2 separate regions of the Homo sapiens genome follow, and region 2 is linked to region 1. The links come from fine-mapping of genetic effects on gene expression. A gene starts in region 1. The other region holds a variant in brackets. All regions are shown on one strand. Distances are between the middles of the regions.

Evidence for each region. PIP is the estimated chance that this variant, and not a neighbour inherited with it, causes the effect. A credible set is the group of variants that fine-mapping cannot tell apart.
Region 2: its variant is the best candidate, but not a certain one, in a credible set for the expression of CDON in fibroblasts (GTEx, PIP 0.53).

What each region holds. Positions count from the first base shown.
Region 1 is chr11:126,060,441-126,064,820 of GRCh38, forward strand. CDON (cell adhesion associated, oncogene regulated) reads right to left here and starts at 2,426. Exons shown (of 20, transcript NM_001378964.1): 1 at 2,139-2,426. RefSeq lists silencers at 2,184-2,853, 2,924-3,013.
Region 2 is chr11:126,108,500-126,112,879 of GRCh38, forward strand. No RefSeq gene overlaps it. Among named protein-coding and RNA genes, the nearest start is that of CDON, 48 kb to the left of the region's middle. The variant A/C (reference allele first, on the strand shown) is at 1,981.

The DNA.
Region 1 (4,380 bases):
TTATTTATTTTCTAACGCTTCCCTGATTTTTACTACGATAATATTTAATTCCTGAAATCATTTCCCTAGTATTTAACTTCGAAACAATCACCAATTTTTAGTCTAAACGTTCGTGGAAAAAAAAAAATTCTACAGAAGGAAAATTTTACTTCAACTTACATTTCGACAAAACCATACATGAAATTGTCTACAAAGTCATGAAGGCAGATGGGCGAAGTGGGAAAATAAGAAGCAAGCCCAAGAAATAGTCAACAAATTTTTACCTGCTCTCTTTAGAACAAAGCCCTAGGACATTAGTTCCTATTCCTACCTACTGCCTTCAGCTGTATATACCCTGACGATCTGGAGGAGAAAGTCCTATCTTAAAGTGAACTTAATTCTTTTCCTGCAAAGTCAAACCACCTGCAAAGAAAGCAAGGCGTAAGCTAGATTTAGAAGCCAAGCTACACAAGCTAGATCAGTATCCAAGTCCTAAGGGTTCTTTGTACTTGAAGGCTTGAGAGTCAGAGCTGTTTAAGTACTTTGCACAGAAGAGGAGGCTGATGAGAACCATGGCAATCAATCAAAGCATCCCAAGTGAGTTATTACACAAACAACAGCACAGTACCTCTAGTAACTGATTCTCCTGGCTGACTAAACTATTCAAACAAAGACAGATTTCCCAAACACTGGGAAGTTTTTGCATGAAAGTTAAACAGTATACATTTGTGTGTTTCTTAATAGAAATATAAATGTTTCTGTTCTACACACTGCCAAACACACACCCAGGGCACGTCTTTACAAAATGAAACAGGTTTTCTCCATCCTTCTCATATAACTTCAAGTATGAGGCAGTTCATTCCAACATGTGCATAACAGAGACTGCAGTATTTGGTGCTTCTCGGGTTCCAAAGAATGCTTTCTAGTTAAGCACTAATTTAAAATTTCCAGAAAATTTTTTGAAGGTTTTCTTTCATCTTATCTTAAAAGTTGAACTATCCCCAAATTTTCAGCTAAAAATAGACTGAGGGTGGGGGAGAACTACAAAATGTCATAGAATGTTTAGAATTATGCTGACAATAAACTCATTTCATTTTCTAACACCCTCCCCACCTTCCTCTCCTTGGAGACACTGTCCACTAGGTATGCCAAGTGTCAGTTGGGAATTTGAGGGTTATGTTATCAGCGCCGAAAGGAATCAGAATTCACTGACTTGGCGTCTTTCATCTTTACTGGCATAGGCCTGAAAATAAATCTCATGTGAGCTTTTAGTCCAACCTCCTGTTTTTCAAGGTGTCTGGTTTGGGACACAAAGGCTGACTTTCTGTTGATGAGGTTCTCTAAATTCTGGATTCCCACTGGAAAGCAGTCTGCCCTTAAAGCACCTGCCACCCTCTGTCGTCCTGATGAGGAAGGGCAGGCATTCTGGAAACAGCTCCTTTTGGAGAGCCTTCCACCTGATTTGGTGGGGTTAGGGAGAACAATGAAGGGAAGGGCAAGAGAGTCTATCTATCCCCCTCAGTGATTTATTGCTGAAATTCCTAGATGTGGAGAGAAAGCAACAAAGGTCTGGAAGCTGCCGACTGAAATAAATAGCGAGCTGTAATGTATTTAGCAAATGATAATGCAATCCACAGAAAGCTTTACAGAGGAGAAGGAAAAATACACTCCCTGGGGCTGGGAAGTCAGTGAGTCTTGTGAAGGCAGAGAAAGATACATTGTGCAGGAAATTTCTCTTGCTTCTCCCTACACATAAATCACTGTCTCTCGCGGGCGCTCTGCAGGGATGGAGATTGAGAGAGGCCAGGGACCCGGCTCCCTTGGGAAAACGCGCGGGCGCCCTAGCTCCCCGCTCTGCGGCATCTCACCTGCCCCCGAGGACCATCGTCAAGAAGAGGTTTCGTCGTGTCACTGACACCTCACCCCGCCTCCTCCCGCGAGGTGCCTCCGAGCCCCCGAGGACGCGGAACGCCGGGGCTCCCCGCCGGGCAAGCATCAGCATCCAGACCCCGCACGCAGCCCTGCACCCCCACGCCCTCCAGGGAACGCCGGCCCGCCCGTCCCCGGGACCTCCCGTCCCCTAAGCCAAGGCCCCCCAAGCCCAGTGCCCGCGCGCCACCCCTCCCTCCGACCCTGCGGCGGGACCCCCACCCCCGCACCTCTCCGCGGGGCTGGCTAAGCCTCCAGACCTCCTGCGCTGCAGCCGGCTCGGAAAGCCACCCCCAGGTCATCCCCCCGCGCGCGCGCGGCGGCGGCTACGGTGGCGGCGGCTGCGATCCGAACGGGCCCCTCCATGCACCGCGCAGGGCAGAGGAGGGAGCGGCGCCTCGCACGCCGGGGCTGGGGCGCTGGGCAGGGCGGGCGGGCGTGGGGTCCCGGGTCTCCTCGCACCTAGCCGCGCGAGCCGGGCTCCCGGGCTCAGGGGAGGGGAGCTGAGGGGCGGAGTCACCGGGGCGCGCCCCCGCGGCTGCGCTCCTCCCCGCCGGGGAGCGCGGGCACGTAACTCGGAGGGTGCTGGGCCGGCCCGGAGCACGCGAGCAGCGGGAGGAGGGACCGGGGAATGACTGACGGAGGCGGGCCGTAGAGGCCGCTGTGCCCCGCCGGCCCGCACCCGGCCGGAGTGTGCGCGCGCAGCCTGCCAGATCAGCGGCGGGGGCACGGGCCGTACCAAGTGACGGAGGGGGGCACGCTCTGGGCAGGACCCTCTCCTCGTCATTGACCTGCCTACTCTGCAAGAGAGATACCCCAGGGGAGCATAGAAGAGGCTTTTCTTGGGTGTAGGACAGGTAAGGGTGAGTTGCCTTACCAAGTCACGGAGATTCCCATCATGCCTGCACTCACGCTCCCCTCACCTTTCATTCCCTTGGAGAGACGGCTCTTCTGGCAGGTCTCCAAATGGTCGACTCTGTCCCCCGAGGCCCCGCCCTAGCCTCGTTCGGGCCCCGCCCTAGCCTCGTTCGGGCCCCGCCCTAGCCTCGTTCAGGCCCCGCCCCTCGCCCCGCCCCGCCCCTCGCCTCTACCTAAGTTCTCTGAGCCGCCAACGGGTGCATCCCTTCTCCCGGTTCTTGCCTGGTCTCTCTTAGGGTTCCAGCGGCCCACCGCTTATACCTCCTTCGCCTTTCCACCACTTTCCATGTTTAATTCCTTAGGCAGCTTCATCTGATTCCCCCACCACCACCCACCCGCCCTGCCTGCACATAAACGCAAGCAGGTAGCAAAACTCAGGGGCTAGGAGAGGCGTGGTGTGAGCCTTTGGCCCCAGAGTCTTTCCAACTCGTCCGTTGGACCTGCCCCAAGTTATCTGAACTCAATGAACTTCAGTTGTTCAAACAGAAAAAGGAAAAATAAATTTCTATTCAAAATGTTGCTGTGAAGCGTAAATACGATACTTTGTGAAAAGCACCTGCCACTCAGTGGGCATTCAAGGACTGTAACTTCTTTATAAATTGTTATTATTAGCAGTTAGCTCTTTTTTTTCCCCATCATCATTACTTACTATTAGCTTAACTACAAAAGGATCCCTAATAATAGTTAAGTTTATAAATACTCAGTACTGAACTTCAGGAGAAATATGCCAGTCCTCCCTTACCTTCTTACGTGAATTTTAAAAAGAAATGCTTTGAAAGTGTGGTATTGTTCAAGCAGGTTAGCTTTCTGCATTAGCTAGATTCAGGGTTTTTGTAAAGCCCCTGGAAAGAAAGTCAGTACAGGACGGAAAAAAAAAACACAATTTTTTTTCTTAAGACGGAGTCTCACTCTGTCGCCCAGGCTGGGGTGCTCTTGTTGCCCAGGCTGGAGTGCAATGGTGCGATCTTGGCTCACTGCAACCTCCGCCTCCCGAGTGCAAGCGATTCTCCTGCCTCAGCCTCCCAAGTAGCTGGGATTACAGCACGTGCCACCACACCCGGCTAATTTTTGTATTTTCAGTAGAAACGGGGTTTTGCCATGTTGGCCAGGTTGGTCTTGAACTCCTGACCTCAGATGATTCTCCCGCCTTGGCCTCCCAAAGTGCTGGGATTACAGGCGTGAGCCACCACACCCAGCCAGAAAAAAACTCTTAACTCTAGTTTGTCCTCCACTGTTCTATTGTTCACTTTTGGAGACCAAGAATCTATATGTTATTAACAAGCTATGGTAAACGATTTTTCATTCGGCAAGTAAGTCTTTCTATAGAGGATTTAACTGAAATGAGAGTTTTGTGTGGATGTTAATAGAAGTCTTGCAAATTTATTGTGGCTACAGAGAATTCCAGGTTCTTCTCCTGGGACATAATGCACTTTGTGCACCTCCAGATCTCACAGTGCCATTTGAATTCACTATGCCTACTGTTACTCATAGTCAGACTAAGAAAAAAATCACAATGTTTGTTGATATTAATTACTTCCTCTCCCCCTTTTTTTG
Region 2 (4,380 bases), 48 kb after region 1:
TTTTTTTTTTTTCTTTTTGAGACAGAATTTTTCTCTTTCGCCCAGGCTGGAGTGCAGTGGTACAATCTTGGCTCACTGCAACCTCCGCCCACCGGATTCAAGCAATTCTCCTGCCTCAGCCTCCCGAGTAGCTGGGGTTATAGGTGCCTGCCACCACGCCCAGCTAATTTTCATATTTTTAGTAGAGACAGGGTTTCCCCATGTTGGCCAGGCTGGTCTTGAACTCCTGACCTCAGGTGATCCACCCGCCTTGGCCTCCCAAAGTGCTGGAATTACAGGCGTGAGCCACCGTGCCTGGCAGAAATCTTGTTATTTCATGTGTTAGTTAAAAAGCACATATATTACTATATCACACATGTGTTTAATGTTTTGATAACCACATTTTAATATAATTGGGTTCCTTTGTAAATCTAATCTATTTTTTTTAATTATTCTAGGAAGGGGCCCATGGACTTCGGACTGCATCCATGGCACAAAAAGATGAAGAACCGGGCTAGAGGCCAGGCCCAGTGGCTCATGCCTATAATCCCAGCACTTTGGGAGGCCAAGACAAGTAAATCTCCTGAGGTTAGGAGTTTGAAACCAGCCTGGCCAACATGCTGAAAATACAAAATTACAAAAAATACCCTGTCTCTACTGAAAAAACAAAAATTAGCTGAATGTAGTGGCAGGTGCCTGTAATCCCAGCTACACAAGAGGCTGAGGCAGGAGAATCGCTTGAGCCCAGGAGGCAGAGGTTGCAGTGAGCTGAGATTGCGCTACTGCACTCCAGCCTGGGGACAGAGTGAGACTGTCTCAAAAAAAAAAAAAAAAAAACAAAAAAAAAACAACTGGGCTAGAGGAGGCAATGTGGCATAATGAAAGAAAAGTCATAAATATCAGACAACCTGGGTGCAGATCTTGGTTTGAATGCTTAATTGCTGTGAAAACTAGGTCATTTATTTACCCTTTTGAGCCTCAGTTTTCTCATCTGTAAAACAGAGTTATTGAGAGAATTAAAGAAATAATATATATGAACCACCTAGCACTGGCTGGTCCTCAATAAATGAATGCTACCGTTATGATTATCAATGCCCACAATTATTGCCAAAAATCACAACCACAGTGCCATTGGTTCTGCCTTTCCCTCTTCTCCAAATCTTAGCATAGCTGCCCTTGGTTCTAGCAGGGACAGTGGTGTCCTGTGGCCTCCAAATAGCTTTGCCCCATATAACCACAGCCCCTGCCCTGGGTCCCACAAGGCTCTGGTCAGCTCTTCTGACCGCCTCTGCCCTGTCCCTGGCTCAGCCCACACACCCCACCGTTCCAGCAAAGAGGACAAAAATGCACATCCACCCTATGGTGGTGACATCCTGCAGTTTGCTAATGAGAAACAAGTGGCCTTCCATGCTCAGTGCAGAGGGAGGAGGACAGAGTCCCACCTCAGGCCAAACCCACATTTCTGAGGTGGCAGAGGGTGACACGGCCAGGAGGGTGCAAAGGACTCCTCCACCTAGATGGCTCCTTGGACATGAAGGCCCTTGGCGGGGCAGCCTTCCCTCCTCCTCTCTCACACCACAGCCCTTCCTGTTATGGGGCACTGGACAGGGCTTGGATGTGGGCAGGAGGGCAGCCAAAGCCTGAGTCACTGGGAGGGGACAGCTGGGTCTTGAGTTGTGGTCTCCGTGGGGAGGACTGGGAGGATGGGGATGGGTGCAGAGGCTCTTCCTCTCCACTCCAGAAGAATCTCTTCGCCCTCGAGGTGTGAGCTGGAGGCCTGTCTCTGGAGCCCTCTGCAGCCGTCTCAAACCTCACTGCCCTTCTCAGCCTCCAAGGCCCACCTCCTTCTCTAGGGGCACCCACTCCCTCCTCTGCAACTCAGTTCTTTCTCGCCCCAGCCTCATTAGTCAAACAGAAAACAGAGGCCCATAGAAGGTCATTGACTCATTCTGGGTAACAGAGCAGTGTGAGGACTAACGTCTACTGCCTTAGACTCTGAGT[A/C]AAGCTGGAGACTCTGGCTGGACCCTTGGCACTGGAAAGAGGGACTGTCCCTGAGGCTGGGGTGACCTGGCATGTCTCTCCCAGTCTGGCCCACTGGCAGCTCCATGCCCAGCTCCACAGGCACAAGTAGGTCAAAGCCAGCCTCCCTGAGCAAAGCCTGCCTGACGCCTGCCCAGAACGCTTGCTGCCCCTCTCAGCTATCTGTCCAATGCACAGGCCTCTCTGGCACCATCCAAGGCTGCACACTGGCTCTTGCTACCTGCGTCCTGCATCTATGCCCTCCACACTCTGGGTCCCGGGGTCCTTGGTGACTCTCCTCTACAACACAGCAGCCTTGGGTTGTCTCTTTGCCTGGGTTTCAGTATCTTCCAGAGCTTTGGGAGGGAGAGCTTCCTTTCCCTCATCAGCCCAATGGAGCCCCGCTCAGTCAGGCTTGTGTAGCCTCCTGTGAAAGGGACTCAGTGTCTAGTGAGGGCCCATTTCCCGGTTCATAGATGGTGGCCTCTTGCTATATCCTCACATGGTAAGGGAGGCAGGGCAGCTCTCTGGGGCCTGTTTCATAAGTGCACTAACCCCATTCCCAGGGGCTCTGCCTCCATGACCTAATCACCTCCCAGGGACCCCACCTCCCAATACCATCACACTGGGGATTTTGTTTCAACACATGAATTCTGGAGAGACACAAACATTCAGACTCCAGCATTTCCAATACGACTCGAGCCCCACCACACCACCCAATTCTTGGCAGTCCCTTCCCTTGGCCCTTGTGGCTCCCAGAACCCACAGGGTCCCTGCACGCAAGGGACTGAGCCCCAGAGCCACACTGCGGCTGCCCTTTGACTTTTCCCAATGCCCTGTCCCATCCAGAGAATTGGACCTCCTTGGAATGATGCTGACCCAAAAGAAGGCTGATTTGCAGCACCCTCTGGGCTGCTGGCCCCGGGGCCGGTCCTCTCAGGGCCCAGCATGATGGCTGCCTCGCCCCAGCTCTCCTGTCTCACTCCAGACTCCCTCATGCCTTGGAGCTGAGCCTGCAGGAGCTGTGGCCAGGGCAGGTTCTGGACCCTACTCCACCTCCCTAGCCCCTCCTCTCTCCTCCAAGCAGTCCCGCAGTGGGTGCCAGCCCTGCCTGGGGCTCTGGCTGCATGACAATTTCCAGGCCTACCTTGCGTGGGGACTGGGGATTGGGCATGATAAGAAACAGCACATGACAGATGTAGAGGTTGGGAAGGTGGCCTGGGAAGGCCTCTGCAGTGTGGATGCAGAAAACTTGAAGCAGAGTGGCTGGCAACTGCCCAGTCCTGGGCTTCCCAGAATGAAGGGAAGCCAGACCTGGGGGTGGAGAGAGGGGCCAGAAGATGCCCTCATCTCCCATGGAGTCGCCTGTCTGCTCGCGGTGCTTTTTCCAAGCTGCTGGCACAGCTCCCTCGCAGGCTATTATTGTCAACACCCTCCCTGTTGCCTGGTGTCCCCATGGAGGGACACTGCCATTGGCCATGTCTTTGCCACACCCTGTCCTTGCCACATCCCAGAGACCTGGGAGAAAGGACTGGGGATTTGAGGTCCCCAGGCAGCCCATAATGCCGAGAGACCTCACTGCCCCTTAGCTGTCAAGCTCCTCTCTCCTTGGCTTCTCTTCTGTGAATTTGAGACCCCTCTCTGCCATTCTACCTATGTCTTCTCCAAAAGCCTAGGGAAGGAAGGATCTGAGTGATGGAGACCCCTCACTCCCACACACAGGAAACATCAGGATGAGAAGCCCACATCTCTCCTCACTGGTGTCTCCCAAACCCACCTTCTCAAGGGATCTTTAGCCCCCAGCCTAGCAGTAGGTAGCATGGGCTCATTTTGAACCATGAGCCCAGAGCCGGGCTGAGCCCTTTCTCCACTGAAGGCCAATCTCTTGCCTATCCCCTGCCACACAAGTTTCCCATCCATTCTGGAACACCCTTAGTCACAGACTGTCTGTGTGGACTAAGGGGAGGCTTAGGGTGGCAGTAGCTGGACACTGTCTATACCTATGTCACCGAGGGATGCAGGGGCAGCTATTTCCTGGAAGAAGAAAACAGAGAAGCCCAGAGACAGGCGGCGGGGAGACAGAGGCGGAGACCAAAAGCAGCATGACAGAGAGACAGGAGCTGGGGGAAGCAGAGAGGGCCAAATTGACACCACATGGCTGCCGCGCCAGACCCCAGGGCCCAGCAAACAGGCTTCATGCTGTCAGTTGCCATGGTGACAAACATGCAGGAAATATCCAAGATAACTAGAATAGTGGCAATAACATGTGTTCTGGATAAAACCTTCCGCGGCCCCACCCCCTCCAGTGTATTCGTTGCATTACTCAGGATAAACTTGGCTTTTGCACATTCACCTTCCCCGAGAGGCTGGGGCTGCGGGTCC